Regions from separate parts of the Homo sapiens genome. Here region 1 is reported to be linked to region 2. The links are microRNA targets in miRTarBase. Many come from high-throughput screens and were not tested one by one. Region 2 holds a microRNA gene; the other region holds the end of a gene's coding sequence.

Evidence for each region. The annotated mature microRNA hsa-miR-7856-5p reads UUUUAAGGACACUGAGGGAUC and lies in region 2 at 1,828-1,848, shown strand. An mRNA with a match to its seed (bases 2 to 7 or 8) in the 3' UTR can be bound and repressed. Matches are read on the target gene's strand: a 7mer-m8 pairs with bases 2 to 8, a 7mer-A1 pairs with bases 2 to 7 and ends in A, and an 8mer does both.
Region 1: miRTarBase lists B3GNT7 as a target of hsa-miR-7856-5p. Seed matches in the 3' UTR shown: 7mer-A1 at 2,523-2,529.

The regions. Positions count from the first base shown.
Region 1 is chr2:231,398,546-231,401,545 of GRCh38, forward strand. B3GNT7 (UDP-GlcNAc:betaGal beta-1,3-N-acetylglucosaminyltransferase 7) reads left to right here. Exons shown (of 2, transcript NM_145236.3): 2 at 1-2,619. The coding sequence ends at 380. Among named protein-coding and RNA genes, the nearest start is that of B3GNT7, 4.3 kb to the left of the region's middle. RefSeq lists enhancers at 17-564, 565-1,110, 2,752-3,000.
Region 2 is chr1:86,355,168-86,359,512 of GRCh38, reverse strand. It overlaps MIR7856 (microRNA 7856), which reads left to right and starts at 1,826; the gene lies at 1,826-1,881. ODF2L (outer dense fiber of sperm tails 2 like) reads left to right here. Exons shown (of 17, transcript NM_001366781.1): 12 at 622-726; 13 at 2,911-3,069.

The sequences.
Region 1 (3,000 bases), not on the chromosome of region 2:
GCAGGAAAGACAACAAATACTACATCCCGGGGGCCCTGTACGGCAAGGCCAGCTATCCGCCGTATGCAGGCGGCGGTGGCTTCCTCATGGCCGGCAGCCTGGCCCGGCGCCTGCACCATGCCTGCGACACCCTGGAGCTCTACCCGATCGACGACGTCTTTCTGGGCATGTGCCTGGAGGTGCTGGGCGTGCAGCCCACGGCCCACGAGGGCTTCAAGACTTTCGGCATCTCCCGGAACCGCAACAGCCGCATGAACAAGGAGCCGTGCTTTTTCCGCGCCATGCTCGTGGTGCACAAGCTGCTGCCCCCTGAGCTGCTCGCCATGTGGGGGCTGGTGCACAGCAATCTCACCTGCTCCCGCAAGCTCCAGGTGCTCTGACCCCAGCCGGGCTACTAGGACAGGCCAGGGCACTTGCTCCTGAGCCCCCATGGTATTGGGGCTGGAGCCACAGTGCCCAGGCCTAGCCTTTGGTCCCCAAGGGGAGGTGGAGGGTTGAGGCCTACGTGCCACTGGGTGTGGTGGGGTGCAGGTAGCCAGAAAGGGACCTCCCTGTGTGGATAATTCTAGGAAACTGAGGCCCAGGAACGGTTGGAGCTGCCCAGTCTGGAGGCCCTCTCTGAGGAGCGAGGCGCCAGGCCCTGGCAGCCCTCCTGACCTGGGTCCGTTGCTGGCCCCCTCAGATGTGGTGGGAGGTCCTGGTGACCTCTGGAGGAACGCTGTGCTCAGGTACCTGGGCTAGGCCTGGCCTGATGGGTCTGTGGCCGCCCCTCGTCTTCACAGGGAAGAGTCTTCTGTGAAATGCCTCAGTCTCCCCAGAGGCCGGGCGGCCCTGGCAGGAGAAACTCAACCCTGTGCGGGCTCACAGGCACCCCCCAGTCCACACCCTGGTCTCCTGGGAGAGAGGGCCCAGCCGGCTCTCCGCAGCCCCAGGCCTGCCTGGAGACGGGCCGCCTCTGCCACAGGGCCTCCACTCCTGGCTGTGTCCTGTAAGGTCTGGAAGGGCGACCGCTCTGACTACCTCAGCGCCCCTCAGAATCTCCCTGGGGCTGCAGCCCTACCCCACCCCGACACAGGGCAGAAGAGCAGCGCTCCTGGCCCCCCGAAGTCCCAGAGCTGCTGACCCCCACCCCAGGCAAGTCTCTCCCGCAGCCCCCACACCCCCAGGCCTGGCTCCCTGGCTGGAAAGCAGCCGGTTTGGCCCTGGAAGTGGACATTCCTCTATTACTGTGAAGTTTTATTTATGAAGAATTTGGAGGGAGAAGGCTCCAGGCTTCAGGAGGGGGTGGTGTCCTCCCTGGCCCTCCTCCCTTCCCTCCCCTCATTCCAGCTGCCTGCCCTCAGCACCCCCAGGCCCCTCACAGCCCAGCCCCCTCCAGAGCCCTGCCCCACCGCACCCTGCTTCTCCAGGGCCTAGCAGACCAGCATCTGCCCCGGTGAAGGGATGGATCAGCTGTGGGGGTGGGTGCAGAAGGTTGCCACCTCCTACCTCAGCGGGAGTCACCTAGGAAAGATGGAGGGATTGACACTATTTTCTCAATAAAATGGGACTTTTTTTTTTTTTTTTTTTTTTTTTTGGTGTGAAACTTCCTGTTCCCAGCTGCATCAGAGAGCCTGTCTGGGGCCAAGGTTGCCAGAGATTTCTGAAGACACAGCTTGTTCCTTGTTCTTGGCTGGTGGGTGCACAAGGACTTCTGGAAGGGATTTAGACGGGGCTGAGTGCTAGGATTAAAGTGGGGATGGGAGTACGGCAACAGAAAAACCTGGGAGCTAGCAATGCACCCAGCCCTTGACTGTGCCCTGGTGGACAGCCGAGCTGTGGCTCTAGCGTGAGCCAGTGCCTTCCTGTCCCTGCCAAGGGTGAGGCCAGAGTTGGCCCCGAGGCTAATGTTTCAGTGGGTGAGATTAGGTCGGCCGTACAGAGGCCGGTGGGCTCCCTGACATCCCTTCCAGGCAACCTGAAAGCACTGAAATAGCTTATGGCCCTGTGCCAGGGACCTTGGCCCAAGCTGCTGACCTCCAGGGTGGGGAGGGAGCTACCCCCAGGAGAAGAGTCACTCAGACAGCAGTATGAGCAAGCCAGCCAGCAGCTCCGTGCCTGCACCCAGCTCAGGGGAATCCCAGGGGGTTCAGATGCCCAGGAAGGAAAAGGGGACAGCGCTACTGCTATGGAATGAGACCACCACTTCTCCTGTTGTCCTTCCCAGCTTCTCCCCAACCTCCCCTTTTCCCTAGTTTATAAGACAGGAGAAAAGGGAGAAAGCAAAAAGCTGGAAAGAAACAGAAGTAAGATAAATAGCTAGACGACCTTGGCGCCACCACCTGGCCCTGGTGGTTAAAATGATAATAATATTAACCCCTGACCAAAACGACTGGTGTTATCTGTAAATCCCAGACATTGTGTGAGAAAGCACCGTAAAACTTTTTGTCCTATTAGCTGATGTGTGTAGCCCCCAGTCACGTTCCTCACGCTTACTTGATCTATTATGACCCTTTCACGTGGACCCCTTAGAGTTGTAAGCTCTTAAAAGGGCTAGGAATTTCTTTTTCGGGGAGCTCGGCTCTTAAGACGCGAGTCTGCCGACGCTCCCGGCCGAATAAAAACCTCTTCCTTCTTTAATCCGGTGTCTGAGGAGTTTTGTCTGGGACTCATCCTGCTACATTTCTTGGTTCCCTGACCGGGAAGCGAGGTAATTGACGGACGGTCGAGGCGGCCCCTTAGGCGGCTTAGGCCTGCCCTGTGGAGCATCCCTGCGGGGGACTGTGGCCAGCTTGAGCTACGCAGATCCTGAGAGCACTCCCGGGTAGGCAATGCTCTTGACGGGTGGAACACCTCGTCAGAGCAGTGTGTGGCAGGCCCCCGTGGAGGATCAGCACAGTGGCTGAAGGAACGGGCACTTGGAGCCCGGACATCTGAAACTTGGTAAGACTGGTCTTTGGAACTTGCCCACTCCATTTGAGTGGAAGCATGTCCTGATCACCCACGGTGTGCCTGTACCGG
Region 2 (4,345 bases):
CTAAGGATGAAAGCTTAAGGGGGCCAAAGTGTGGGCAAGTAGGAAGGGGCTGCATCTCGATGGATTAGATGGGAAAATTAAGTTGAGACATCCAGTTAGAATATTTCAGTCATCCAGGTCTGAGGTAGGAATGGAGGTTGTGGTGGACTGTGGGACTTGTTATTCATCAGGGTCTTCCAGCTGGTTATTTGGGTTTAATCCCTCAGCAGGAATACTGTGGTTGAGTGACCATATTCTGGGTGCAGGGCCTAGAATTTTTTTTTTTTTTTTTAGCAGATTTTGATTTGGTGGGAAAAATAATTTAAATGGAAGCTAGTTTGGACCAGAGACTGATTCTTTGAAGTGACATTGATCTGCAAATGAAAATCTTTGTAGTCTTCAAAGCTCAAGTGGAGAGTTTAGAAGTATTGATGAGAGAAGACAGGTAAATCAGACAAAGATTGTGGGTTAGAGTAGAGCACTGAGTGATTCCATATTTAAAGAAGTAATAACATTAGATGAACCAGTCAAGGATATTGATAGGAAAATAATGACTTGTTTAAAATGAAATTTTAAATTTTAGATTTTTATCTCATGTTATGATTCTAAAAATAATATGTTTCTCTAATACTTTATTTTCAGGTACAAAAGTTGCAAGAAGCAGCTGAAATAGTAAAAAGCAGATGTGAAAATTTGCTACATAAAAATAACCAAATAACAAAAACCAAAAATAAAAATGTAGAGAAGGTACGTTTGGAATTTCAAATAAATAATATTTTATATATTTTTTACTTTATGAATAGTACACAAATTCATTCATTTTGGTCATTTTCTCTAGTTCATACTTAGGAAAGGGCTAGTCTTAGCCTCTGTAAGAGTTTGTTTTCCAAGGAAATAATGTTTCTTCCAGGCTGGAAATGTTGTTTGTTTATGTGAATGTTTTTTCACTTTTTTGTTAATATTTGGAAAATAGCATAAATGTTTAATTTTTCTGATGCAAGAGCAGACTTTAAATAGCTCAAAAAATGGTTATCAATCATAAGTATACAAACCTAAGTATCTCTCATTTTTAATCTCACCCTTTTTTTCTGGTTATAAATGTTTTACGTCTACAAAAGCAAAGCCAATATCTGCTAAATGCATTTTTGAAGAAAAATAATATCTTTTAAAAAACGATCATTTCCTTTTATTTGTTCTATTGCAACAGAATGAAGGGAAGGCCAGTGTTGGCGAGTTATGATGTTTTTGTGAATATTTTAAAATTTTTAAATGAAACCGCATCTCTGTTTGGTTTTTTGTGTTGTTTTGGTAAAGAAGCAGTGAAAGTTGTAGGATGCTGACTCCTGGCAGCAGAGGTCATGCGATGTTAGTGGTCGCTTCCATCTGAATCTAATAAGGTTACTCTCTCTGGGTTGCTCCCTATCTTAGGATTGAGAAGTCAGAGCAAGGCAATAATGTGAAGAAGAGGTCAGCCAGAGCAAGCGTCCTCCAGTTATACAGACATAAAGATAGCTCACTGAATGCACAACTTACTGCTTTCATGGAATTACTTTTCACCTATTTTTAGCAGGCCAGCGAATAAACCATTTCATGTCTTTTGGTCTCATTTTCTCATGAAACATACCAGTGCAAATGTCTCCTTTTCTGCTAGGCAGCACTGTAAATAAAAGCATATTTTACAATCCTGTTCAAATGACGGAAAGGGTTGGAGCCTGTCTTTTTCAGATACTGTGAGGTCACAATGTTTTCTAACTAGTATTTAACAAGACAACTATTTTTTTAATGAAATTTTTCTTTTTCTTACTTCACTGTTTTAAGTCTCCTGGTTTTCTCATGGCCTCTAAGATGTTTTAAGGACACTGAGGGATCCTTTGTTCTGGATCCCTCAGTGTCCTTAAAACAGACATTTTTCAGTCTGTTTTTTTTTTTTCCTGTTTTACTTTATATACCATCAGAATATGGATCATGTGTATCCTGTTAGTAGCCACATAGCCTTCTCCTAGCTCAATGCCTAGCACGTAGTAAGCACTCAATATTTTTTTAATTAATGAAATTTTTTTTAAAGGAGCAGTCCAAGGATGGCGACAAGTCTTTTTTCTTTTACTTTCAAGACAGTTTTAGGAAGCATTCCCTGTCTGTCTTCCAAATATAATCTGGATTTTAATTTTGCAAAAAAAAAAAAATACTGCATTATCTTTCCTGATCAAGAATGCCAGATACTACACAGAAACTATTAGGTGTTCCTGTCTCAGGGAAAGAGTCTGGCTATTTTTTGTAATTAGCAGTGCAAACATTTCTTAAGGTTGCTGCTTTTCACATCTCCACGAAAGTGCTGCAGCGAGGAACTGCAGTAGCCAAAACAGATTAATGTAGATGAAATTAGAGAGATTTGTTGATAGTAACATTAATGGCCAAATTAAAGGCAAGTGAGAACTGATGATACTAGCAATTTTTAAATAATATACAGTAAACCCTATCAGTTTTGGCTAAGATGAGTGAAGCAAGCTGCTCTAATTTAAGTAAGTATCTGAGTTATAAGATTGAATGACTAAAAGTGACAATTCCTTTAGAACCTATAGCTGGGCAGTAGACAATTACGGCTTTATTAGTAATGGTTATTAGTGATAATCTATGCTTGAATATAATGTCAGGATTTTAAAAATTTGCTCTTAAAAATTAGTTAAACATCCACCCTGTCAGCTAATTTACCCTATTTATGTGCTCAACAAACTTTTTGAAAACTAAAGTCTACCCCACTTTTTAGTTATACATTCTTATTTAACAGAGTTTAATATTTATTCAGTTGTGTTCTTATTTAAAGCCATTATACCTAAAATACTTACGTTATAAGCATATCTAGTATTTAAGATAATAAAAATATTAATGCTGAATGTGTGATCTTGCACTTATTTCCCTACTGCCACAACTCAGATGAGAGGCCAGATGGAGTCTCATCTGAAGGAGTTAGAGCGTGTCTGCGATTCCTTGACGGCGGCGGAACGGAGGCTTCACGAGTGTCAGGAGAGTCTGCAGTGCTGCAAGGGGAAGTGTGCAGACCAGGAACACACCATTAGGGAGCTTCAGGGCCAGGTGTCCAGCCGTCCTTCTGAGTTTTGCTAGATGCGTTAAAAGAATGCTTTGGAATGATTTCACCAGTTGAGGGCACTCATGTCAGGGCTTGATTTTTAAATTCCCATCTACTTAGTTCGTAAAACATCATTTTCATGCAGATACTATAATACAGTTTTGCAAGCTATTCTTTTAGTATTTTATGGTGAAAAATTGGTAATTAAAATTCTTATTTTAGTTTATTCATGCAAATCTATAGACATTTGAAGACATGGTAATAGAATGAGAGAAGGAGCAAAGTTATACTTACATATATGTTCCTTGATGTAAGGATAAGGTAAATTATTGAAACTTACATTACAAAAATTGAATTTATTTTAATTAGAATTGTACGTCAAGTTTTTTGGGATATTTTTCAGTCTGTTTCTTTTTCCTGTTTTACTTTTTATACCATCAGAATATGGATCATGTGTATCCTGTTAGTAGCCACATAGCCTTCTCCTAGCTCAATGCCTAGCACATAGTAAGCACTCAATATTTTTTTAATTAATGAAATTTTTTTTAAAGGAGCAGTCCAAAGATGGTGACAAGTCTTTTTTCTTTTACTTTCAAGGCAGTTTTAGGAAGCATTCCCTGTCTATCTTCCAAATATGATCTGGATTTTAATTTTGCAAAAAAAAATACTGCATTTTCTCACTTAAAAAGTAGGAGCTAAATGATGAGAACACGTGGACACATGGAGAAGAACAACACACAGTGGGGCCTTTCAGAGGGTGGAGAGTGGGAAGAGGGAGAGGATCAGAAAAAATAACTAACAGGTACTAGGCTTAATACTTGATTGATGAAATAATCTGTACAACAAACCCCCATGACACAAGCTGACCTGTGTAACAAACCTGCATTTGTACCCCTGAACTTAAAAGTTAGATAAAAATATGCAGACAAAATTTTAGTTTAAATTCCTGAGAAGAGATTTTTCTAGTAAAATGTCAAACGACATAGATTAGCCTAAATTACTAATTGAAATTATGAGAAAAAAATTTTTTCCTTGAATCAAAGCTTCTTACATTATTTAGAGCAGATTTTGAAGCAGTGGGAAGAATATTCTGTCTTGGCATGGGTGAGTGTGTCTTTGGTTGATTTGTTCACTTTGCTTCTCAAAAAAATATGTATTTTATTTACAGTTTCGACTTCACAGATACTCAATTATTAATCAGTATTTTTAGGTGAAACAGAAAACCATAAGAGAAACCCTAGGTATCCAAAAATAGGAGATTAATACTGCTTAAAATTTTCC